2 separate regions of the Homo sapiens genome follow, and region 1 is linked to region 2. Evidence: fine-mapped expression QTL. A gene starts in region 2. The other region holds a variant in brackets. All regions are shown on one strand. Distances are between the middles of the regions.

What was found. PIP is the estimated chance that this variant, and not a neighbour inherited with it, causes the effect.
Region 1: its variant is fine-mapped to the expression of UCN2 in breast (GTEx, PIP 0.94).

The regions. Positions count from the first base shown.
Region 1 is chr3:48,584,162-48,592,161 of GRCh38, reverse strand. It overlaps COL7A1 (collagen type VII alpha 1 chain), which reads left to right. Exons shown (of 119, transcript NM_000094.4): 10 at 1-60; 11 at 148-264; 12 at 340-489; 13 at 570-698; 14 at 1,346-1,489; 15 at 1,578-1,703; 16 at 1,806-1,949; 17 at 2,444-2,563; 18 at 2,692-2,835; 19 at 3,167-3,292; 20 at 3,374-3,520; 21 at 3,758-3,880; 22 at 4,223-4,369; 23 at 4,608-4,742; 14 more. Among named protein-coding and RNA genes, the nearest start is that of COL7A1, 7.2 kb to the left of the region's middle. RefSeq lists enhancers at 2,427-3,128, 3,129-3,832. The variant C/T (reference allele first, on the strand shown) is at 3,548.
Region 2 is chr3:48,552,847-48,568,479 of GRCh38, reverse strand. It overlaps UCN2 (urocortin 2), which reads left to right and starts at 4,699. Exons shown (of 2, transcript NM_033199.4): 1 at 4,699-4,777; 2 at 5,344-6,762. The coding sequence starts at 5,356. The coding sequence ends at 5,694. It overlaps COL7A1 (collagen type VII alpha 1 chain), which reads left to right. Exons shown (of 119, transcript NM_000094.4): 106 at 310-390; 107 at 589-642; 108 at 717-770; 109 at 844-906; 110 at 1,290-1,352; 111 at 1,457-1,573; 112 at 1,743-1,820; 113 at 1,917-1,970; 114 at 2,165-2,213; 115 at 2,812-2,844; 116 at 2,984-3,070; 117 at 3,279-3,371; 118 at 3,500-3,697; 119 at 4,058-4,407. The coding sequence ends at 4,074. It overlaps PFKFB4 (6-phosphofructo-2-kinase/fructose-2,6-biphosphatase 4), which reads left to right and starts at 11,677. Exons shown (of 14, transcript NM_004567.4): 1 at 11,677-11,799. The coding sequence starts at 11,703. RefSeq lists enhancers at 1-378, 8,078-8,217, 8,273-9,214, 10,965-11,054, 11,185-11,274 and 1 more.

The sequences.
Region 1 (8,000 bases), 27 kb before region 2:
CCGTGAGCACCCTATTTGGCCGCAGTGTGGGGCCCGCCACTTCCCTGATGGCTCGCACTGGTGAGAAGGCTGGGCACTTTCTTCAGGCTGGGACGGGCAGGCAGGGCAAGGCCCGGAGGCCACTGACATCCCATGTGCCCTGGGCAGACGCTTCTGTTGAGCAGACCCTGCGCCCGGTCATCCTGGGCCCCACATCCATCCTCCTTTCCTGGAACTTGGTGCCTGAGGCCCGTGGCTACCGGTTGGAATGGCGGCGTGAGACTGGTCAGTGCGGGGGAAGGGATGGACAGGCAAGGGTCAGGGCATGGCCTCTGCTGGTCTGACCCTGTTATCTTGCAGGCTTGGAGCCACCGCAGAAGGTGGTACTGCCCTCTGATGTGACCCGCTACCAGTTGGATGGGCTGCAGCCGGGCACTGAGTACCGCCTCACACTCTACACTCTGCTGGAGGGCCACGAGGTGGCCACCCCTGCAACCGTGGTTCCCACTGGTGAGGGCTCTGTGGGCTGGGCCAGTGAGTGGGGGAGGTGTCGGAGCCCCAGGCTGCCTCTATGCTGTGCTCTCCAACAGGACCAGAGCTGCCTGTGAGCCCTGTAACAGACCTGCAAGCCACCGAGCTGCCCGGGCAGCGGGTGCGAGTGTCCTGGAGCCCAGTCCCTGGTGCCACCCAGTACCGCATCATTGTGCGCAGCACCCAGGGTGAGGTGGACGCAGCCAGCACCCCCACCACACACACTGAAGTTCCAGCCTGAGGGGTCTGAGTGTACCTCCAGCCCTCTCCTTCCACACCTGGGTCCCTATAGTCTCCTCCCTGTCTCGTTATCCATCTGCTTCCCAAGATGGCACTGAGCCCTGAACTGTCAACAGGGTGTGTCTGCCCCTACCCTACCCCAACCAATCTCCTCCCTGCCCCACACCCCATCCACGGCTTTCACCTCTGCACAGCCACAAGCTCAATCACCTGTCTTTCTGTTACCCTAGTGGTGACCACTGTACACCAACCTCTCATTGCATGTCCCCATCCAGCACTGACCTCTGCCATCCCACATCAGTGTCTGTCAATGGCTCATCAGTTCTCACTGCAGTCCACTGACTCCTGTCATCCTACATGCTAAGATCCCACAGACTCCTGTCCTCCAGTGTCCCTGACCATCACTGGCCCCTTTCATCCTATGTCCTTGTCTTGCACTCACTTTTTTCAGCCATATCCCAGCTCTCTGGTCCCCACCACCCCACATCCCCACCCCCATGGCCCTTCTCACTCTGCGTCCCTGTCCATCACTGCCATCGTCCCACATCCCTGTCTCTTTCTGACCCCTGCCCACCTACCCTGACTTCTCTCTTAGGGGTTGAGCGGACCCTGGTGCTTCCTGGGAGTCAGACAGCATTCGACTTGGATGACGTTCAGGCTGGGCTTAGCTACACTGTGCGGGTGTCTGCTCGAGTGGGTCCCCGTGAGGGCAGTGCCAGTGTCCTCACTGTCCGCCGGGGTGAGTACTGCAGGAGGCTTGTGGAGGACAGCTGCCTGCCTCACTCTGGTCCTGGTTCTGACTTCTGACTTCTGTCTGTAACTCCTAGAGCCGGAAACTCCACTTGCTGTTCCAGGGCTGCGGGTTGTGGTGTCAGATGCAACGCGAGTGAGGGTGGCCTGGGGACCCGTCCCTGGAGCCAGTGGATTTCGGATTAGCTGGAGCACAGGCAGTGGTCAGTGTGGGGTGTGTGGGGGGACTGCCAAAGGGACCAATGAGGGTATGGGTGCCAGAGGGGACAGGCAGGAGCCATGCCAGCATTTCCCTCTGACCTCAGGTCCGGAGTCCAGCCAGACACTGCCCCCAGACTCTACTGCCACAGACATCACAGGGCTGCAGCCTGGAACCACCTACCAGGTGGCTGTGTCGGTACTGCGAGGCAGAGAGGAGGGCCCTGCTGCAGTCATCGTGGCTCGAACGGGTCAGGCCCTGCCCCCGTCCCTTGGCTCTCTGCCTCCATTGCTCTTTCAGACCCCCATGCCTTCCCTTGCAGACCCTTGCTTCTCCCCAGAACTCCTGCCTCCCCCTTCAGAATCCCACTCCCTCCTCCCTCAGAGACGCTGCTTCCTCTTCAGTTTCAGCTGTCTCCCCTTAAGCCCTCCCCGTATTCAGATTCCTCCGCTTCTCTCCTAAGACTCCCACAGCCTTTGCCCTCAAATATCCACCACTTCAACCCTCAGACCCCCATCCCTTTTTTGCTGGACCCAAATCTCCTCTGAGATTTACACTTTCTCCTCCATCAGACCTGCTCACTGCTTCCTAAAACCTCCACCTCCCCACTCCTCCACTGGACCTATTCACCATCTCCTCTATCAAATTCCCGTCTCCTGTTAGACTCCCATCATCTTCCCCTATCAGATAGCCCCACTCCTTCCTGCCTGTTCCAGCAGACTCCCCATTGCCTCTCCCCACTAGACCCACTGGGCCCAGTGAGGACGGTCCATGTGACTCAGGCCAGCAGCTCATCTGTCACCATTACCTGGACCAGGGTTCCTGGCGCCACAGGATACAGGGTTTCCTGGCACTCAGCCCACGGTGGGGACTGGGGTTTGGGAGGGGGCAGGTCAGGGTGGAATGGGGGCTGGGGGTTTATTGGGGGTCCAGGTGGGGCTCTGGGGCACAGAGTTTGCTAGCCCTGGAGCTGCCTCCATCCCTGTTCCCAGGCCCAGAGAAATCCCAGTTGGTTTCTGGGGAGGCCACGGTGGCTGAGCTGGATGGACTGGAGCCAGATACTGAGTATACGGTGCATGTGAGGGCCCATGTGGCTGGCGTGGATGGGCCCCCTGCCTCTGTGGTTGTGAGGACTGGTGAGTGGACCCTGGCCAGCTACTAGCCACACCGCATTAGCTACCCTGCCCTGCTGTGTGTTCCTGATTGCCCAGCTGCCTCCACCCCCCTGCTCAGTGACTGTCCTGTCCACACTGACCCACCCCACACTGATTAAGTGTCCACCCACGGTGACCTCCTGGTGGCCCCACACTGCCCACCCCAAGGCACTGACCTCCTCCTCCTCAGGGCTGCCTAAAGTGACCTGTCCACACTAACCTCACACTGACTTTCAGATCACCCCTGCGTCAACCATTCCTGCACTGCCTCTCTGTTCTCTACCAGGACCCCTTACCTTGCCTCTGTCCCCAGCCCCTGAGCCTGTGGGTCGTGTGTCGAGGCTGCAGATCCTCAATGCTTCCAGCGACGTTCTACGGATCACCTGGGTAGGGGTCACTGGAGCCACAGCTTACAGACTGGCCTGGGGCCGGAGTGAAGGTATGGCTCCCTGACGCCACCCCTGTCCTTCCTGGCTGGGACTGCTCACCCCTAACCATTGCTGTATGCCCACCTGGCCAGGCGGCCCCATGAGGCACCAGATACTCCCAGGAAACACAGACTCTGCAGAGATCCGGGGTCTCGAAGGTGGAGTCAGCTACTCAGTGCGAGTGACTGCACTTGTCGGGGACCGCGAGGGCACACCTGTCTCCATTGTTGTCACTACGCGTAGGCAGAGCATGCGCTGGAGAGCTT[C/T]GGATGGGTGGTGTGGATGGTTTGGGGATCCGGGCTTGTGCTCTGGATTGGAGAAAGGACCAGGATTGGTAGTGAGCCTTTGGGGGCAGGGTCTGAGAGGAGGGAGAGGGGTCTGAGAGGCTGGGCGGGGTGCGTGTGCCAGGGTGGGCCTGGGATTGGTGCAGGGGCCATGGGGGCAGAGCCTCCCTGATTCCTGAGCTTTCTCTCCAGCGCCTGAGGCTCCGCCAGCCCTGGGGACGCTTCACGTGGTGCAGCGCGGGGAGCACTCGCTGAGGCTGCGCTGGGAGCCGGTGCCCAGAGCGCAGGGCTTCCTTCTGCACTGGCAACCTGAGGGTGAGAGGTGTCCCCAGGAGGAAGTTAGGGACCATTGGGGGCAGGGCTGTGGCAGACTCCGCAAGGTAGGCGAGGACAGTGATGGTGGGCGGGGTCTGTCACTGGGGGTCTGCGGGATCCGTGACAGTAGGTAAGATCAATCAATGAAGTGGGTGGGATCAATGAGTTCATGGAGGGTCAGTCTGGCAGGGTCCGTAAAGTGGGCAGGGTCAGTGAGGATGAGGAAGATCAGTCAGGAGGGTGAACCCAGTTAACAGAGCCAGTGAAGTGGGCAGGCCCTTTAATGCCCCCAGGTGTCACTATCCCACATGCTCTTGGCCCCCACCCTCACGCCTGCCCCAGGTGGCCAGGAACAGTCCCGGGTCCTGGGGCCCGAGCTCAGCAGCTATCACCTGGACGGGCTGGAGCCAGCGACACAGTACCGCGTGAGGCTGAGTGTCCTAGGGCCAGCTGGAGAAGGGCCCTCTGCAGAGGTGACTGCGCGCACTGGTAAGCCTGCCTCACCTTGGCGTGCTCCTCCCCTGCTGATGACCCACCCTGACTTCCTGCACCCCGACTCTGAGTGACTCCTCCTGTACCCCTACCCCTCACCCTCTGACCCTGGGTGACCCCAGCATGACCTCCCATGATGCTTCAATAAGACAAACCGGACCCAGGATCTCAGATCTCTCCCTTCTGGGTTCTCAGGACTCAGCCTCTGATCCTCGATCTTTCATTCCTCCTTCAGAGTCACCTCGTGTTCCAAGCATTGAACTACGTGTGGTGGACACCTCGATCGACTCGGTGACTTTGGCCTGGACTCCAGTGTCCAGGGCATCCAGCTACATCCTATCCTGGCGGCCACTCAGAGGCCCTGGCCAGGGTGAGGGGGAGGCCAGGATTTGGGTGGGCTGGCAGTTGGGGCTCTGTGGAGACAGCTTTTTAATCAAGTTCTGTCTCCTGCAGAAGTGCCTGGGTCCCCGCAGACACTTCCAGGGATCTCAAGCTCCCAGCGGGTGACAGGGCTAGAGCCTGGCGTCTCTTACATCTTCTCCCTGACGCCTGTCCTGGATGGTGTGCGGGGTCCTGAGGCATCTGTCACACAGACGCCAGGTATAGTGGGCGTAGTGGGAAGGGCAGAAAGGTGTGTCTGGGTGGGCTGCCCGCTTCAGTAACTTGTTCCCCTTCCTACAGTGTGCCCCCGTGGCCTGGCGGATGTGGTGTTCCTACCACATGCCACTCAAGACAATGCTCACCGTGCGGAGGCTACGAGGAGGGTCCTGGAGCGTCTGGTGTTGGCACTTGGGCCTCTTGGGCCACAGGCAGTTCAGGTTTGGCCCTGGGGCAGCCAGATTCTACCTCTCCCTGAGGCCCCCCACCCAGGCTCCATACCAGTTACCATCTCCTGACCACCCAATAGGTTCAGGCATTCTCCCAGCTCTCTCACAGGCTCCAGACCTCACCTACTGCCTGGCTCCCTATCCTGCCATCACTGCTGACTCCCTAATAGATAGGGTTTGGTCACACACACCCTGATGTGTTTCTCCAGGCTCTGTGCACCCCCATCCCTGCTCTGTCATCCTCCTCAGGCTCTGTGTTTCCTTCCACCCCAGGTTGGCCTGCTGTCTTACAGTCATCGGCCCTCCCCACTGTTCCCACTGAATGGCTCCCATGACCTTGGCATTATCTTGCAAAGGATCCGTGACATGCCCTACATGGACCCAAGTGGGAACAACCTGGGTGAGGACTGCAGCAGGCATGGACTCCTGGGGCTATCCACTGGGAGCTTGGTGCCCCAGGGTTCTGACATGTCCTTCCTTCCAGGCACAGCCGTGGTCACAGCTCACAGATACATGTTGGCACCAGATGCTCCTGGGCGCCGCCAGCACGTACCAGGGGTGATGGTTCTGCTAGTGGATGAACCCTTGAGAGGTGACATATTCAGCCCCATCCGTGAGGCCCAGGCTTCTGGTAAGGAGTAGGCTGATGGGGAAGGGGTCTGGGAATAGGGGTGGCCCTGAAAAGGCTATCATGCAGCCACTGGACCCCACCTTAGGGCTTAATGTGGTGATGTTGGGAATGGCTGGAGCGGACCCAGAGCAGCTGCGTCGCTTGGCGCCGGGTATGGACTCTGTCCAGACCTTCTTCGCCGTGGATGATGGGCCAAGCCTGGACCAGGCAGTCAGTGGTCTGGCCACAGCCCTGTGTCAGGCATCCTTCACTACTCAGGTTTGGAAGAGGCCTCTGGGGGACTGGGTGGTAGAATATAAGGGGTCTGGGGGTTCTTGGTAGAAATGTTCAACCTCAAAGAGACCCTATGTCCGCAGCCCCGGCCAGAGCCCTGCCCAGTGTATTGTCCAAAGGTAAGAGTCCCTCATCGAGAGGTGAACAGAGGCTGCACCTGGGGCTAGCCACTCTGACCCACATCTGACATGTCTTTCCCCAGGGCCAGAAGGGGGAACCTGGAGAGATGGTGAGTGCCCCTGCGGGCGGGGAATAGAGAATGGGTTGAGTGTCAGTGGGGCAGGAGAGGTTGGCAGCACAGGTCTCACTGATTACCCTTCCTAGGGCCTGAGAGGACAAGTTGGGCCTCCTGGCGACCCTGGCCTCCCGGTGAGTGTCCCCCACATCTGTCCCTGCACCCTGACTGGCTTATCCCCACCTAACTGCTATCTTCTTTCAGGGCAGGACCGGTGCTCCCGGCCCCCAGGGGCCCCCTGGAAGTGCCACTGCCAAGGGCGAGAGGGTGAGTGTGGAGACCATCGAGGTTTCTCTGAGGCACTCCTCAAAGCTGTCTCGGGGTTTTTACAAGAGAGAAGGAAGAAGCAGAGTTAGAATCATCGGGAATTCCTAGAAGCCCAGCTGGAGGTTATAAACCACCACAGAGACTTTGGGGGACACTCTGAAATAGAAGGGCCAGTGGGGCCTCTAGCCCCGCTGCAGAGCCTGAGCAGCAGCTCCAAGTCCCAGAGGCAGGGAAGCCCTCTGCCTTGTCGCTGCCCTTGTGCCTGGAATTGGGCTCTGTGAAGCTCTGAGGGGCCATTTCTCTGCCTCACTGTTCCACCCCCAATAACACTTGGGGGTCAGTGGGGTAGGCGACCCCTTGTTGATGGGGTGAGGCCCCTCCAGCAAACCAGGGGCCTTGGGGGAGGGTCCCTTCCTGTCCTGACCTCTTCACCTCCTCAGGGCTTCCCTGGAGCAGATGGGCGTCCAGGCAGCCCTGGCCGCGCCGGGAATCCTGGGACCCCTGGAGCCCCTGGCCTAAAGGTGAGCAAGCCTTGTCCTGCAGGTCAGGGTGGGCGCTGCCTGAGTGGGTGGGGTGGCTCCGACTGTTCTGCCTCTGGCCTCCATTTGCAGGGCTCTCCAGGGTTGCCTGGCCCTCGTGGGGACCCGGTAAGGTGCCTTCCCTTCTTTGCTCTCTAAGTGTCTTCCCAGGGTTCTTCCACAGGGTGGGAGCCTGGGGTGGTGGTGCAGTGCCCACGTTGACATTCGCCTGAGCCCAAGCACCACCCTCTGCTCTGTTTCGTCCTCAGGGAGAGCGAGGACCTCGAGGCCCAAAGGGGGAGCCGGTAGGTGAAGGGGGAAGGGAGGCGGCCGGGATGTCCCAGGGAGGAGCAGGACTGCCCCACACCAGACCCTGTGCAGGGCCTAAGGCGCGAATAGGAATAGCTGGACATGTCTAGGGGCTTCTTCCAGCTCAAGGCCCCCATAGCCTGAATCCTGCCCACTGCTCTCTGTCCTTACAGGGGGCTCCCGGACAAGTCATCGGAGGTGAAGGACCTGGGCTTCCTGGGCGGAAAGGGGACCCTGGACCATCGGTAAGTGCAGGGTATGTGGAGGCAAGTGATGTGTAGTGGGGGGACCAACACGAGGGGGGCGAGAGTGAGGTCTGTGGGGTTGCACCTTATACTTTGTCTCCTCCATCAGGGCCCCCCTGGACCTCGTGGACCACTGGGGGACCCAGGACCCCGTGGCCCCCCAGGGCTTCCTGGAACAGCCATGAAGGTGACAGCCTCATGAGTGCCATGTGATGCAGAGACCTGGTGACCCCATTTGAACCCACATAACCCCTGCCAGTTACTCTGGCCCTTGTGACCCTTTGATTACCCCCATCCTCACCATGACGCCTCAGTTCTCCCAA
Region 2 (15,633 bases):
ACAGGGGCCCCCTGTCCCCAGAGGGCCCCCGTCACCATGGTGGTCCCACCAGTGTGGTAGCTTTTGACCTTATAGTGACCCAGTGCTCTCATGGTGTCCTCATGTCACCCAGGGTCCCCCACCTCCACAGTAGCCGCCTATGATGGTGTCCCCTGCCTATGGTGACCCTTGTCCCCATGGCAAGCCCCAGTGGCTCTGGCCTCCAGAGGTGACTCCCACCCCATGGTGTTCCCTACCCACTATCCAGGGCGATTCTCTTTGGTCCCTCACTGACCTCCTCTGACCTCACATGGACCCTCTCCCTGCTAGGGATCCCCAGGAAAGGATGGAGTGCCTGGTATCCGAGGAGAAAAAGGAGATGTTGGCTTCATGGGTCCCCGGGGCCTCAAGGTAGGAAAGAAACAAGATTGGTTTTTTTCTGGTCAGGAAGGCCTAATGTTGAAGGGCGAGGGACCTGGGGTCAGATATTAGGGCACTGGGTCAGAGGTTGGAGTAGCTGAGGCCTGTTTGGAGAGTTAGTTTCAGGGTGAAGGGGGTCACAGAGTGAGGTGTCTGGGAATCACTTCTTCATCTGCTTTTCTCCCTCAGGGTGAACGGGGAGTGAAGGGAGCCTGTGGCCTTGATGGAGAGAAGGGAGACAAGGTACAGAGGGGATGGGGGCTGGGGGGCTACGTGGCCTGGGGCCTAAGGCTCACCCCACTGCCTGATGCCTGCAGGGAGAAGCTGGTCCCCCAGGCCGCCCCGGGCTGGCAGGACACAAAGGAGAGATGGTGAGTGTGGGCACGCTCAGAATGAGGGGGCCACGGGTGGACGGGGGCCAAGTTCATGTCTTTTTTTCTCCAGGGGGAGCCTGGTGTGCCGGGCCAGTCGGGGGCCCCTGGCAAGGAGGGCCTGATCGGTCCCAAGGTACAGGGTCTGTGGACAGTGGACATGACAGGGAGTCAGGATGGGGCAGGGAAGCTCATGGTCGGGTCATGGGGGTGTAGGGACAAGGAAGGCTGTAGAGGGTTGGGACTTTGGGGGCTGAAGTGGGGCTGGTCTCGAGGTGTCAAGGTGGGTTGGGGTCACAGTGGAGTTAGGATGAAAGCATGGGAGGTGGAGGGGGCATGTGCATCAGGGCAGGGGGCTATAGTGGAGTTGGAGTCATGGGGATCACATCTGGTTGGCTCACAGGTGCTTGGGTTACAGAAGGTTTGGGCATTAGGCCAGGGAGCTCATGGGAGTTCAGGGAGGTTCCAGAGCTGAGGGAGGTCAGGGCAGAAGGTCTCTCATGCTTCTTCTGTTCCCAGGGTGACCGAGGCTTTGACGGGCAGCCAGGCCCCAAGGGTGACCAGGGCGAGAAAGGGGAGCGGGTGAGTTGAAGCCATGGTCATGGTGAATTGAGGGGAGCGTGCACTTTGGGAGAGGGTCCATCTCTGGGGCCTCTGATTACTGACTCTGTCCTATATCTCCCCAGGGAACCCCAGGAATTGGGGGCTTCCCAGGCCCCAGTGGAAATGATGGCTCTGCTGGTCCCCCAGGGCCACCTGGCAGTGTTGGTCCCAGAGGCCCCGAAGGACTTCAGGGCCAGAAGGTAAGGGGCCCCAGCTCTGACTCCTGATCCCTGAACCTTCCCTACCCTTCCAACCTCATAACCATCTTCCAGCCTGCCTGCCCCAACCTCTGAAGCTGTGGCCCCCAACCTGCCTGACTCTGATCCCCACTGCCTCTGACCCTGCTCACTTGGTCCCTGTGTCTGACAGGGTGAGCGAGGTCCCCCCGGAGAGAGAGTGGTGGGGGCTCCTGGGGTCCCTGGAGCTCCTGGCGAGAGAGGGGAGCAGGTGAGTAGGGATTCCAAGGCTTGGGTCAGAGATCGGGGTGACTTCTGTTGTCCCTGAGGTCAGAGGTCACAGCCTGGTCCCATCTGTTGCACATAGGGGCGGCCAGGGCCTGCCGGTCCTCGAGGCGAGAAGGGAGAAGCTGCACTGACGGTGAGTGTGGGCCTGGATGGGCCTGGGAGGGCCTGGGTGGGCCTGGGTGGGCTGGGGCCCTACCTCCCTCACCCAGCACCCTGACCCCTGGGCCCTGGCTCCATGCAGTCTCACCATAGTCCCTGTATTATGTGCCCTATGTCCTTCCTGTGGGCCATGGGTTCTTTATGGTCCCTGTGGTCTTCTGCTCCCAGGAGGATGACATCCGGGGCTTTGTGCGCCAAGAGATGAGTCAGCACTGTGGTGAGTGGTGCCCAGCCCGCAGTCTCCCACTCCACCCCAGCACCCTAGGCAAGGGCAGGCAGGCCCCTAGAACTTACAGGGCAAGCAGTCAAGAAGATGGGGGGATGGATGGATACACAGAAGGACACATGTGCTGCAGGACTGACACATGACATGTGTCCCCAGTGGAGGGAGACACACAGGCAGATGAGGATTGCCATGCAGTGCTCTCAGATGTCCAGCTTGGCTGTGTGGGGAGTGGGATGATGGTGGGAGCAGAGCTGGTCCCCTTGGGCCTGACCTGGACCCGGTGGGAGGGGCATCAGAGTGAAGCTGTCTCTTCCCGTCTCTGTCTGCACCACCTGCCTGTTTCTGTGTCTGGCCTGCTTCTGTCTCTTGCCTTTTGTTGGCCTGTTCCCAACTTCCCTCTCCTCTGCCTTCTTCTCTTTTTCCATCTCTCTATCTACCTCCCACCCTCTCTCTTCCTCTCTCTCCTGTTACCCTCTCCTGCTATCTCTTTGTGTATCTCTACCCCTCTGCCTGTGTGTCTCTGTCTGTCTCTCCATCTTCCCATCCTTCTCTCTGTCATTGTCTCTCTATCCCTCTCTGCCCCCTCTAGCCTGCCAGGGCCAGTTCATCGCATCTGGATCACGTGAGTAGTTTTCTACTCCCAGAACTTTCTTCACCCCAGGCCCTGCCCTGCCTATCAACTGGGGTCCTCTCAGGGGGGTTGGCTGGGATGGCTGCCCATGGTGACTTCAGGGCCCTGAGGCCCCTGCTCTTGGCTCCAGGACCCCTCCCTAGTTATGCTGCAGACACTGCCGGCTCCCAGCTCCATGCTGTGCCTGTGCTCCGCGTCTCTCATGCAGAGGAGGAAGGTGAGGACAGCTGAACCCGTGGGGCAGCTATGGGTGGGGCCGAGACACGCACATGGGTGTCCATGAATGCAGGGCACACGCCAAGCACGTAGGGTCTGCATGCAGGGCACACGCATGGGCACTGTGTGCACACAGTGGAAATCAGTGCTGCCCACCTTGCCCCGGGGCCAGCAGCCACTGCTCCCAGCACACCCTGCCCTACCTGCAGAGCGGGTACCCCCTGAGGATGATGAGTACTCTGAATACTCCGAGTATTCTGTGGAGGAGTACCAGGACCCTGAAGCTCCTTGGGATAGTGATGGTGAGAATGGGGGGCTGCCAGCGGGGTCTGGGGAGGGGCAGGCAGGGCTGAGCCCTGCTGACCTCCCCCTGACCTTTCAACCCTCTCTGATTCCCACAAACCCTGCTGACTTGACCCCATTGGCCCAGACCCCTGTTCCCTGCCACTGGATGAGGGCTCCTGCACTGCCTACACCCTGCGCTGGTACCATCGGGCTGTGACAGGCAGCACAGAGGCCTGTCACCCTTTTGTCTATGGTGGCTGTGGAGGGAATGCCAACCGTTTTGGGACCCGTGAGGCCTGCGAGCGCCGCTGCCCACCCCGGGTGGTCCAGAGCCAGGGGACAGGTATGGGCTGAGCCCCCACCGTGGGGAACTGGGCACTGAGCCTGCCTGGATCGGGTTCTGGGGGAGGAGTCCTTGGGCCAGGGTTCCAGGTCAGGGTCCTGGAGGAGACGCTCCCTCGCAGTAGGGGACCTGGGGCAGACGCCCAGACCAAAGAGCTGAATATAGAGCCCCAGCCGTGGAGCCCCCAGTAGGGTCCCCTTCCATGTTCCCTCCTTTAAAGACCTAAGTATGGACCCCTCTGAGGTCAGAGCCCCCACTTCCTGTTGTAGCCTCCGCTCCCTCCCCTTGGCGGTGCCTCTGCCTGAGCGTCTCCGGGGAAGGTCAGATGGCTGACGACCGTTTCCAACCTGTCCTCACCAGGTACTGCCCAGGACTGAGGCCCAGATAATGAGCTGAGATTCAGCATCCCCTGGAGGAGTCGGGGTCTCAGCAGAACCCCACTGTCCCTCCCCTTGGTGCTAGAGGCTTGTGTGCACGTGAGCGTGCGTGTGCACGTCCGTTATTTCAGTGACTTGGTCCCGTGGGTCTAGCCTTCCCCCCTGTGGACAAACCCCCATTGTGGCTCCTGCCACCCTGGCAGATGACTCACTGTGGGGGGGTGGCTGTGGGCAGTGAGCGGATGTGACTGGCGTCTGACCCGCCCCTTGACCCAAGCCTGTGATGACATGGTGCTGATTCTGGGGGGCATTAAAGCTGCTGTTTTAAAAGGCTCCTGTTGTGACTGTTTGGGAAGATGGGGGGTTTCAAGGGGGAAGGTTTTCCTTGGGGGGTTGGTATTATTCTGCATGGGTACAGAGTCCCTCTGCCCAGTCCTGGTCACTGTCTTGTGATTCTCAGTCCCCAACTTGTCCCCGGAAAAGAGTAGATAGGGTGGGGGCTAAGGACACCCCCGGGAGGGATGAGTCATAGGTGGGGGGCTGCCTCATGCCAGGAAGCATGTACCAGCTCCCACCCCAGGGGGCTGAGGGAGATAAATGGGCCCTGAAGCGGGGTAGAGGGTCAGACCACAGGACAGTAGTGCCTGGCCCCAGCCCCAGGCAGCCACAGCAGGCTGCCTTACCCCAGAAGCAGCTGGTGGCGGTAGGACTGGGTTGGGTCGGGATGGGAAGGGTCTTGGAGGTTGAGTGGATGTGGGGTTTGGCTTTATGGAGGGCTTGGACCCAGGGGACTCTGGGATCTCTGGCTGCTTTTCTGCCTCTGAGATCCGATTCCTGCCCTTCTGTTTCCTGGATCAGCTGCAAGCTCTCCTGCTGAGAACCGCCTGCCCTCCTGTGGACTCTGTGTTTCTGTCTGAATCTTTCTTTCCATCATGCTGTCTGTCTCTGGGATGGTTTCTGTCTGTCTTTTTCTTCTAGTCTCCATTTTGCTCTGCCTCCATCTCCTTCATCTCCCTCTCTTGCTGTCCCTCTGTCTCTGGATTTCTTTGTTTCTTTTTTTCTGTCTTGCTTTCTGCCTCTTTGTCTCATTCTGGCTCTCCTCTTGTCTCCCCTTCTCTGTCTCTGGCCTGGCCTGGCCTCTCTAACCCCTTTCTCGGTGTCTTCCTCTCTCTCCATCCCCCGCTCTGTCACTCTGCCCTTGCCATCTGTCTCTGTCCATGGACCCCAGTTGACCAGAGCCCCTGCCCTGAGCCCATTTTCTCCTTGCAGCCTGACCTCACGATGACCAGGTGTGCTCTGCTGTTGCTGATGGTCCTGATGTTGGGCAGAGTCCTGGTTGTCCCAGTGACCCCTATCCCAACCTTCCAGCTCCGCCCTCAGAATTCTCCCCAGACCACTCCCCGACCTGCGGCCTCAGAGAGCCCCTCAGCTGCTCCCACATGGCCGTGGGCTGCCCAGAGCCACTGCAGCCCCACCCGCCACCCTGGCTCGCGCATTGTCCTATCGCTGGATGTCCCCATCGGCCTCTTGCAGATCTTACTGGAGCAAGCCCGGGCCAGGGCTGCCAGGGAGCAGGCCACCACCAACGCCCGCATCCTGGCCCGTGTCGGCCACTGCTGAGCCTGAGAGAGGGGGTCACAGTGATAGGGCCACCCTGGATGGGAAGACCTGGAGGGCAGCCACACAGCTGGACGGATGCTGCCACATCTGGGCATACAGTGTCTGGACGCTGCCACATCTGGGCATACAGTGTCTGGACACTGCCACATGGAGCCACTGTCATGCAGGTCATATCAGATCTGAGTGCCCCACAGAGTCACAGTGTGTCTGGACAGCCTGGACATTGGACATTGCTAAGTTGGGTCACTGCCACATGGAGTCTTGCCATGCCTGTGTGCCCCACAGACCTAATATATGTCCGGACAGCTTGGATGCTGCCACGTAAGGTCACTGCTGTGGCGAGTCTTGCTATGTCTGGGTGCCCCATAGTCACAGAACACCTGGACACCGCCACATGCAGTCATCATCATGTTACTTTCAGGAGCCTCAACACGAGAGCTCAACACTGCCTCCGACCAGTCCCTCTGAGGCCCACAGGTCTGTCATCCCATAGGCCACCACACAGAGAAATGCTGGCTGAGGGTCACTTGCTTGCTCTGTGCCCCATGAGGCAGCACCTGCCCCAGATGGACGGGGCTGTGAGGGGTGTCTCCAGGCACAAAGGCCCGAACACAGGAAGCCTGTGACCATGGCAGCCTTGTCTTATGGGCGCATATGTGCGTGTGTGGCTGAGTCTCTGACAGCTGTGAGTGTGTGTGAGCAGGGTAAGGGTACGTGAGGGGTCTGAGAGGAGTGGGTGCTTGTCCCCCAAACCTGCATGAAGCAAGAACAACTCCTGGCCAGGCCCTGTCCTCCCCACGTACCCCTGCATCCCCAGCCTCGACCCAGGGACATGCAGGGCTCACAGGAGACAGGGCTCAGGCTGCCGGAGCTCCAACCAAACTCTGTCCCACTTCACGCACGGACTGTCCTGGGCAAAGGTGTTCACCTTTCCGAGCCTCGGTTTCCTTATCTGTAAAGCAAAGCGACACCAGCAAGCCTGTGAGCATTGTGTATATAGCAGACATGGAGGTCCTGCAGCAGGAGGTGCTCAATAAACACAAAGCGACTGAAGGATGGGACCAGCAAGCCTGTGAGCATTGTGTATGTAGCAGACATGGAGGTCCTGCAGCAGGAGGTGCTCAATAAACACAAAGCGACTGAAGGATGGGATGTGCGAGAATCCCAGTGGTGTGCACCCAGGCCGCGACACATGGTGGGTGAGTCATACCTGGCTTCTCTGCCTTCCTCCCTAGCTCCCCGGTTAACTGACCTGGTCCCTTGGTTTGGAAGGACTAGGTTTTGCCTGATTTCACAGCCCAACTCCATTGCTGGGCCAGAGACAGAACTGACTTTCCAGGCAGTGTGGACGGGCTTGCCCGCAGAGGGGGCAGGCACTCTGGGCTGTGCAGACAACTCTAGGTGGACATGAAGGCAGACGCTGGGTGGCATGGGCAGCTCTGGCGGGAGAGGGAGACTGTACTGGCCACAGCGTGGCCGGCTGACTGGAGTGGGGGCACTGGCGCTGCCCTCACAGTTGTAAGCAGCCCTGTGGGGGCGGGCCTACAGTGGGCTGGGGAGGCGGGGCTGCAGGAGCCGCAGGAGTCGCTTCTCTCTCTTCAGAGTGCTAGGCGGGGTTACCCCACTCTGGAGCTGCAGGGGGCAGTGGCCCTGGCCAGTTTGGTTGCAGGATGGACAGAGGCTCGTTAGGAGGCAGCTCCCTGACCGACCTGGGGCCGGGGAGCAGCAGGCGGGGTAGGCACGGGACAGCGTGGGGAGGGTGGAGGGTTAGGGAAAGACCTGGATGAAGTCAGGGTGGTGCTGGAGGGGTGCGAGAGTGTTGGGGGGTCTCTCCTGGTTTAGGGGTGCTCTGAGGGCCATTCATCTGTCAGTGGCCCGAAGGAGGGGGAAAACTGTCGCCCTGCAAGGGAGAGGGGGCTGGGCCAAGGGGGAACTATAAATAGTGTCTTCCTCCAGCCCAGGGGGAGGGACCGCCAGCTGGCGCTGCCCAGGCCCTCCTGCTCTGCTCTTTGCTGGCCTCCAAGGGATCATGTTTGTCCAGGTTTCCTCTTGGGGTCACACCAGTTTGGGGAAGTCTAGAGGCTCATTTAGGATGGGTTTCACATGATGTGGCTTTAGCCCTTAAACCAGCACTTCTAGGGTGTCTGCTGTGTGCCCTGTGCCAGTCCTGAGCTTCTCTGAACACCTGCTGTGTACTCAGTTTGGTCATGAACCTCTCTGAACCCTTTCTGTGTGCCCTTGCTGGTCCTGAATCCCTAAGCACCTACTGTACGCCCTGTGGCAGGCTGGAAGGAGGAAGTGCAGATCAGGGTTCCCAGGCTGCTTGGTGACATGGTTCTATAACCTGAAGTCAGAACTTCACACTCCTTGTGAGCCCTGGGCCCAGGGAGACACAGGGGACAATCCTTTGCTGGAAATGGCCAGAGGAAGCTGGAATTCCTGGAAACTCCTGAACCTCCCAGTGGACAGCAGGGCTGGGGGTGGAGAGATATATGTGGGAAGGGAGGCAGCAGAGAGCAGCAGGCCCCACTGCAGCCTGCCTGTCTCTGCACATGCTGGGGTGCAGGACTTGTGAGTGTGTGTGCGTCTGTGTGTGCATGTGCAGCTGTGCCAGTGTCTCTGTGTGCATCAGTGTGTGGGCCTGTGTGGCATGCACTGAAACCCCTGGGTCTTTATGCTGCAAAGGGTGGTTTGTGGGCCAGATGTGGTGGCTAATGGCTATAAACCCAGGGCTTTGGGAGGTTGAGGCGGGAGGATCGCTTGAGGCCAGGAGTTCAAGGCTGCAGTGAGCCATGATTGCACTATGTGCTCCAGGCTGGGTAACAGGAGCGAGACTGTGTGTGTGTGTGTGTGTGTGTGTGTGTGTGTGTGTGTGTGTGTGTGTGTGGTGGGATGGTTTGGCAGTTCTGTCAGGACTGGCCAGTAGATACAGGGACTGGGAAGAGTTTGAGCTTTGAGAACTGGCCACCACATGGCTTCTAGGCTGGGACACTGGGAGGAAGTCCAGTGGTCAGTGCAGAGGGCACCCTGGGAGCCAACCAGGGTCAGGCCAGCCAGGTTCATGGTGGGCAGAGGCTGAGCAGAACATGTTCACACGTGTGTACAGACATCCCAGCATACTTCCCACGCCTGGGACAGAACAGCTGGCTCACTTTCGGATATACTGAGGAGGAAAAAGCCATGAGGGCCAGAGATTCTACCGGGCATCCGCTGATGCTGAGAGAGCAGACGCTGGGACAGCATCTCCATGGAGAGGACACAGGGGAGTGGGAGCACACATGTGAAGGTGGACTGTGCGATTCCACTGTAGTGTGGCAGGCAAGGTCTGGAAGGCTGGGAGTTGAGCTGAGTCCATGCTGCACTGTGGACTCGCTTTGTGATCTTGGACCCTTCTCCCTCTTCCTGACCCTCAGTTTCCCACCTGACAAACAGGGCCATGGGAGGGGAGATGGAGAATATCCTCAGAGCAGATGTGGACGGTGGCCTTGGGGAGGAACCCCAGGCATCTCCTGATGTTGACCTGTGGCCTTCCAGCTGGACATAGGGCCTTGAAGGAGGGTGCCTGGGTCAGCCACGGGTAGACTTTCTGGGGAAGAGAGGAAGGTGCAGAGCTGTTGCATTTCCTGGGAACCAGGCTCATCCTGTCTGGGTGTGAGGATGCCTTCCCAGAGATAGCCCTGGCCCCCTGCCCAGGCCAGCTGTCCTCTACCCCCAGCCCTTGATTAGCATCCCAGGAGGTCTGGGAAGAGAATGGACAGGCCAGAGGAGGTGCTGGGTGTCTGTAGATATCAGAGGAGATAGCTTTTGCAATGAGTGCTGCGGGTTAGACAGGGTGTGGGCATGTGGTAATGAGGTCTCAGAGGCCACGGTGGCCCCAAGATGGCCTTGGCAGTGGCCAGAAGACAAGAGGGCTGGCTGTGTCACGAACAGAATGAGTGGCTTTGGAGAAGTAGGGAGCAGGTCACGAGGGGCACCCAGCTCATCAGGAGCCGCCCATGGATGTGCTCAGATCTGCTGGGACTGGGGTGGAGGAATAAGCGGGTAGATACTGCAAAAGGAGGATGAGGAAGGAGGAAGTTGTTGACTCTGCCTGGGGCAGGGTGTTCCCAGGGCAAGCAGCTAGAGCTGGTTTGGGGGAGGGTCCAGATGGGCTTCCAGCATGTGGACCTTTGGAATCTTCAGTTCCTATGAAGTGGGCAAGACATCTGTGTCAGTCATCTTAAGGGTCCTTGCCAAGCTTTAAAGAGCTGGGTGGACTTGGACTGATCCAAGGCAGGGCTGTGGCAGGGAGGGCATGGGAGGGGGTGCTACACCTATAGCCCACGAGGCCAGTCTTGTTGCCAGTCCCATGCCCTCAACACCTGGCTCCTGGCTGGGTACACACTGGGCAGAGAGAACCTGAGGATGCAGGGCACCTGCCAGGGGTGTTGTGGATGACATCGCTAGAGGGCAGTGTGGCTCAGGTTGAAGCCGTGTTGGTGGGGGCTGGGGCAGAGAGTGTACAAAGCTTGGAGAGGCGGGGCTGGGGATCCCGAGGAGGCGGGAAACTGCAGGAGTCCGGTGGGGGCCAAACAAGAAAGTGAGCCAGGGGTTTAGGAACTTCTGGATCTCTCCCTTGTTCCTTGTCCCCAGTGCATTTTCAAAGACAAGAGGGAGATACAAATATAGTAAAAGGCAACCATAACGTATTTTAAAATGAATTTCTTAGAGATTGACATACTTAATTTATACTGTAATACTGTAAGATAGACAATGTGCACATCCCATTTTCCTGAAGAGAAAATGTTATTAACATATTATTTTCAAAAAATATGTAAAACTTTAGTTAAAAAAACCAAAATACTAAAAATCAAAAAAAAATTGTAAAAAATGAAATTCTGGAAAGACGATTAAGATACTCCCAGGGCTTAGTGAGTACCCAAAGTACTTGGTTACTAAGTGCCACGCACGGCCGGGCGCGGTGGCTCACGCCTGTAATCCCAGCACTTTGGAAGGCTGAGGAGGGCGTATCACCTGAGGTCAGGAGTTCGAGACCAGCCCGGCCAACGTGGTGAAATCCCGCCTCTACTAAAAATACAAAAATTAGCAGGGCGTGGTGGTGGGCGCCTGTAATCCCAGCTACTTGGGAACCCGAGGCAGGAGCATCCCTTGAACCCGGGAGGCGGAGGTTGCAGTGAGCCAAGATAGCGCCATTGCACTCCAGCCTGGGCAACAGGAGCGAAACTCCGTCTCAAAAAAAAAAAGTCCCACGCATTTGCTCCCAGCAGCCAAAGCAAAGAAAGAGGAACAATATTGAAATGTGTTTTGAGTCTCTATCCATGAGGTAAAAGAGCTTTTCCAGCGTGGTTGAGCATGCTCCTATGGACGGCGGAAGAGTCCCGGGGCTCGGAGCAGTCAAGGGGGACCCCGAGGAGGGGCAGGAGGGCGCAGCGGAGTTGACGGCTGGGACTGCAGGCCTACTGGCCCCTGTCGGCTCTGACCAACCTGGCCGTGCGGGTCACGTAGGCCTCGTCCCACTGCATGAAAACCCCTCCCTCCTGGGGGCCCTGGGCTCCCTAGCAAGGAGGTAGCAGAATTCACGCGTGCCGCTGCTCAGGGATGCAGCGCCAGGGCGGAGCCCGTAGGTGGGGCCTATGCAAATCAGCGCGGGCAGGTTGGGAGAGCTGAGTTTGCGCATCCGGGGCGGGCCTGCACAATCCGGGCCTTGAACTGGGGCGGGACCAGTACAATCCGGAGTTGAGCATGCGCATTCTCGATCCTGGCCTGAAGAACTGGGCCCACTTGTTCCAAAACGGGCGGGTAGGTGAGTTGGGCATGCGTGGTCGGAGGCCGGGCCCCTTTCAGCTGGGGCGGAGCCTACTCACTCTGGGGCGGGACCTGCGGGAAGATAGACATGGGCTGTCGCGGCTTGAGGAGGGGCGGGGCCCAAGGGGCGGGACCTCGGGTGGCCCGAGGTGGCCCGGCTGCTGGGTTGGAAGCGGCGCAGTCCGACTCATCCCGGCCCCGGGATGGCGTCCCCACGGGAATTGACACAGAACCCCCTGAAGAAGATCTGGATGCCATACAGCAATGGGCGGCCCGCTCTGCACGCTTGCCAGCGCGGTGGTGAGGCGGGGTCCTCTGGGAGGAGGTGGGAGGTGCACCGGGATGGGTGGGTAGGGCGGCCTGGGCGGGGGTCTCGCATGGAGAAGGGGCGGGAGACAGATGGGGAACCGGGGACAGGTGAGGTTGCCGTGACTGGGGAGGCTGCTGGGGACAGGTGAGGCGGTCGTGACAGTGGTGGGCCAGAGACAGGTGTGGCAGAGCAGGGGGCGGGGACAGGTGTGTGGGGGCATATCGGCTTGGCGGTGGCTAGGTCTGGCCACCATCACCTCGGGGAGGGCTCTGGCCCCCTCGCTTCCCTCTCCAATCCCCATCGCCCCCAGTCTGGGGAGGACCCTGTGGGCACCCCAGGCCCTTCCCTCTCTCCTGGCCAAGGAGTGTGGGCCGGGTTGTTGGACTGGAACTGAGCTGTGTGGCCCTAGGTGAATTACTTGGCCTCTCTGAGCCCAGAACTTTCAAAGGTGGGCTAGTTTTCCAACAGGAGGAAGGGTGCCTCTTGGCCTTAAAGCTGAGCTTGGGCAGGAACTTCAGCAGAGATGTGCTCAGGATAGAGACAGAAAAGTATGCCGTGTGGGCCTGTGTCTGTGTCCCGGGACATGTAAGTATCCACCTGGGGTCATGGGTGTACAGTAAAACTGGAGAGTGAAACAGCTAGGAGAATGCTGAAATTCATGGAATTGTTAAGGGGCTCACCTCTCCTAGGGTCCCAGGTGTTTAAACCGCTTCCTTGAGTTTCTGCCTGTCCTTAAATGAGCTGGCAGTTTTTTTTTTTTTTAAGAGATGAGTCTCGCTCAGTGGCCCAAGCTGGAGCAAGTGCAGTGGCGCGATCATAGTTCACTGCAGCCACGACCTTCTGGGCTCAAGCAATCCTCCCACCTCAACCTCCCGATTAGCTGGGATTATAGGTGCGCCACCACACCCAGCTTTTTTTTTTCTTTTTTCTTTTTTTTTGTAGAGACAGGGTCTTGCTATGTTGTCTGGGCTGGTCTCCAACTCATGGCTTCAAGTGGATCCTCTGGCCTCGGCCTTCCGAAGTGTTGAGATTACAGGCGTGGGTCCTGGCCTGCAACTTTTTTATTACCAGGAAAAGAAAGATTTGTTTTAGGAGTAACTGAAACATTGTAATGAATTTGCAGCTTGTCCAGCACCTCAGAGAACATCTAGTTTAACAGACAGTGAAATGGAGATCAGGAGATTGAGTGACATGCCTGGGTCTCCCTGTGATCCTGCCTCTGCTTATGTATGATAAGCAAGGGGAGAGTTCTTTGTGCTCATCCTGCTGCAGCAGCCTGGAGCCATGGCTTTGATCATGATATGAGTCCTGGGGGAAGGGTGTGTGTATTTCTGGCCACACTGTGAGTCCTGGCAGGGGAAGGCCATGTTTCTGACCAGACCAAGTCGTGGTAACTCATGGCTTTGATTGTGATGTAGGTCCTGGTGGGGCTGTGCTGTCTATAATGCACACTCAGTCCTGAGGGCTATGGCCACCCCTCCTTTGAGACTCTTCTGGAGGCGGGGAGGCTGAGCCAGTCTGTGTTATTAGGGCTGTGTGGTCCTGACTTAGGGGGGTGGCTGCTATTACTACATAGGGGAAAGGAGTGAGGACCTGGACTTTTTTTTTTTTTTTTTTTTTGAGACGGAGTTTCACTCTTGTTGCCCAGGTTGTAGTGCAGTGGTCCTATCTCAGCTCACTGCAACCTCTACCTCCTGGGTTCAAGCAATTCTCCTGCCTCAGCCTTCCAAGTTGCTGGGATTACAGGTATGCGCCACCATGGCCGGCTAATTTTGTATTTTTAGTAGGATGGAGTTTCACCATGTTGGCCAGGCTCGTCTTGAATTCGTTATCTCTAATGATCTGCCCCCCTTGGCCTCCCAAAGTGTTGGGATTACAGGCATGAGCTGCCATGCCTAGCCAAGTCTGTGAGCCTTTAAGGAGTAGGTCCTCAATAAGCGGAGGCAGGGTATTCTGTCATCACTACCATTCTTTCTTTGCTTCTCACTACGTCTGAGTCAGGGATTGATGCATCAGCTCCAAGCCAACCCCCGTTACAGGTGAGAGGAAGCTGAGGCCCAATGGGAAGGTCTCATAGCTCCTGAGGCAGGGCTTGTGTTTCTCCAGGCTCTAAGTGTGGAACTGAAATGTGGCTCTGGCCTGAGCTGAGGGGCTCGTGCCATCACGGTGTCTCAGGGTGTTGGGGTAGGCTGGGTTCTAGGTCCGCACTTTTTCCTGGAGGAGGAGGTAGCACCTGAGAGGCCAAAGATGAGACCTGCAGGTTGTTTGGGGATTTGGGCCTCAGGGTTCACAGCAGGGAGTGGGTAAGCAGTGAATGAACATGGAACCCGCCCATGCAGCACCTCCAGCTCCCAGTGCCTGCATTTGGGCAACACTTTACCCTTTGCATAGTAGACTTGTAGGTTGAGTGACTGCAAGGACAGTCTGGACCCGGAGGGTGTGGGTGGGGATGGAAGCGGATTTGGTCCCAGGGCTTTGTGGGGAGGAAGAAGCAGGACCCACTGCTGGTCTGTGCTTTGTACTGGGTTTTCTCTGGAGTCTAGTCCCCAGCTCCTCAGGGCACTAGGGGCTGGTGGACTGAGGGATGTACTGCACCTCCTCCACTCCCACAGGCACGCCCCCGCTTGATAAAATTTAAAGCCACACCTGAGGGCTTGGGAGGCTTTTACCTTTCCCATCATTGGCCTCCGAGCTCAGACCTGGAGGAACTCTGAGGGCAGGTGGGGCAAGAGCTGACTCAAGAAGGACTGCAGAAAGGACGGTGTTTGATGGCTTTTCTCAGCTGAAAGGTGGCAAGACTCTTCCTGGGTAAGGACATGACTGGTGTGTGCACAGGGCAACAGGAGAGATGACTTTCAGTCCCCTCTGAAAAGGGCCTCCATGGCACGTTACTTTATTTTAAAGAGCTCTTCCTTCCCTAGCCTGGCCTAAGGAGGTGAGAGCAGTTGCAGTTCAGGAGTCAATTCTGGCACCCCCTCCAGGGACTTGTGGCTGCTCCTTGGGTAGAAGTAATGGAACATAGACACTGCCCATTGCCAGGCACGTCTCAGGCCCCTTGGGCCCCTTCGCTCCTAGAGCTCATGGGGCCTGCAGCGAATTTACAGGAAAGGAACCCATGAGGGAAGTTGGGCTGACATGTCTTCACATTTCCTTCCGCACATGCTCAATGTTATAAACAGTGTGTTCTTTTTTTTTTTTGGAGACAGTCTTGCTTTGTCCCCCAGGCTGGAGTGCAGTGGCACAATCTTGGCTCACTGCAACCTCTGCCTCCTGTGTTAAAGCAATTCTCCTGTCTCAGCTTCCCGAGTAGCTGGGATTACAGGTGTGCACCACCACACCCGGCTAATTTTTGTATTTTTAGTAGAGACAGGGTTTCACCATGTTGGCCAAGCTGGTCTCGAACTCCTGACCTCAGGTGATCTGCCTGCCTCGGCCTCCCAAAGTGCTGGGATTACAGGCATGTGCCATCACGCCCAGCTATAAACAGTGTATTCTACCATCCTGTTTGCTCAGTGTCAGGGTCCTGTGGGCTCAGAGCCACAGGTGCAGCCGTGCACCCAGCCCGCTTAGTCCACGTGCTCTGTTTTGAGAGCTGCAATGTGTTCCCTCCTTGTTGTGCCTCAGTTGGCAATTTCTTATGGCTGGAATTTCCCAGTGTTTTGCTATGGTAAGCAGAGCTGTTGTGATACACTTGAACTTTGGTTTTCTTTTGGGTCATTTCCTTGGGAGCTTATCTTGGGGAGCAGAGGAGATAGGTAATTTATTGCCTTGTTTTGCACCCAGGCCTGATTTGCTGCCCTGCCTGCCCACCTTGTGCTGCGCAT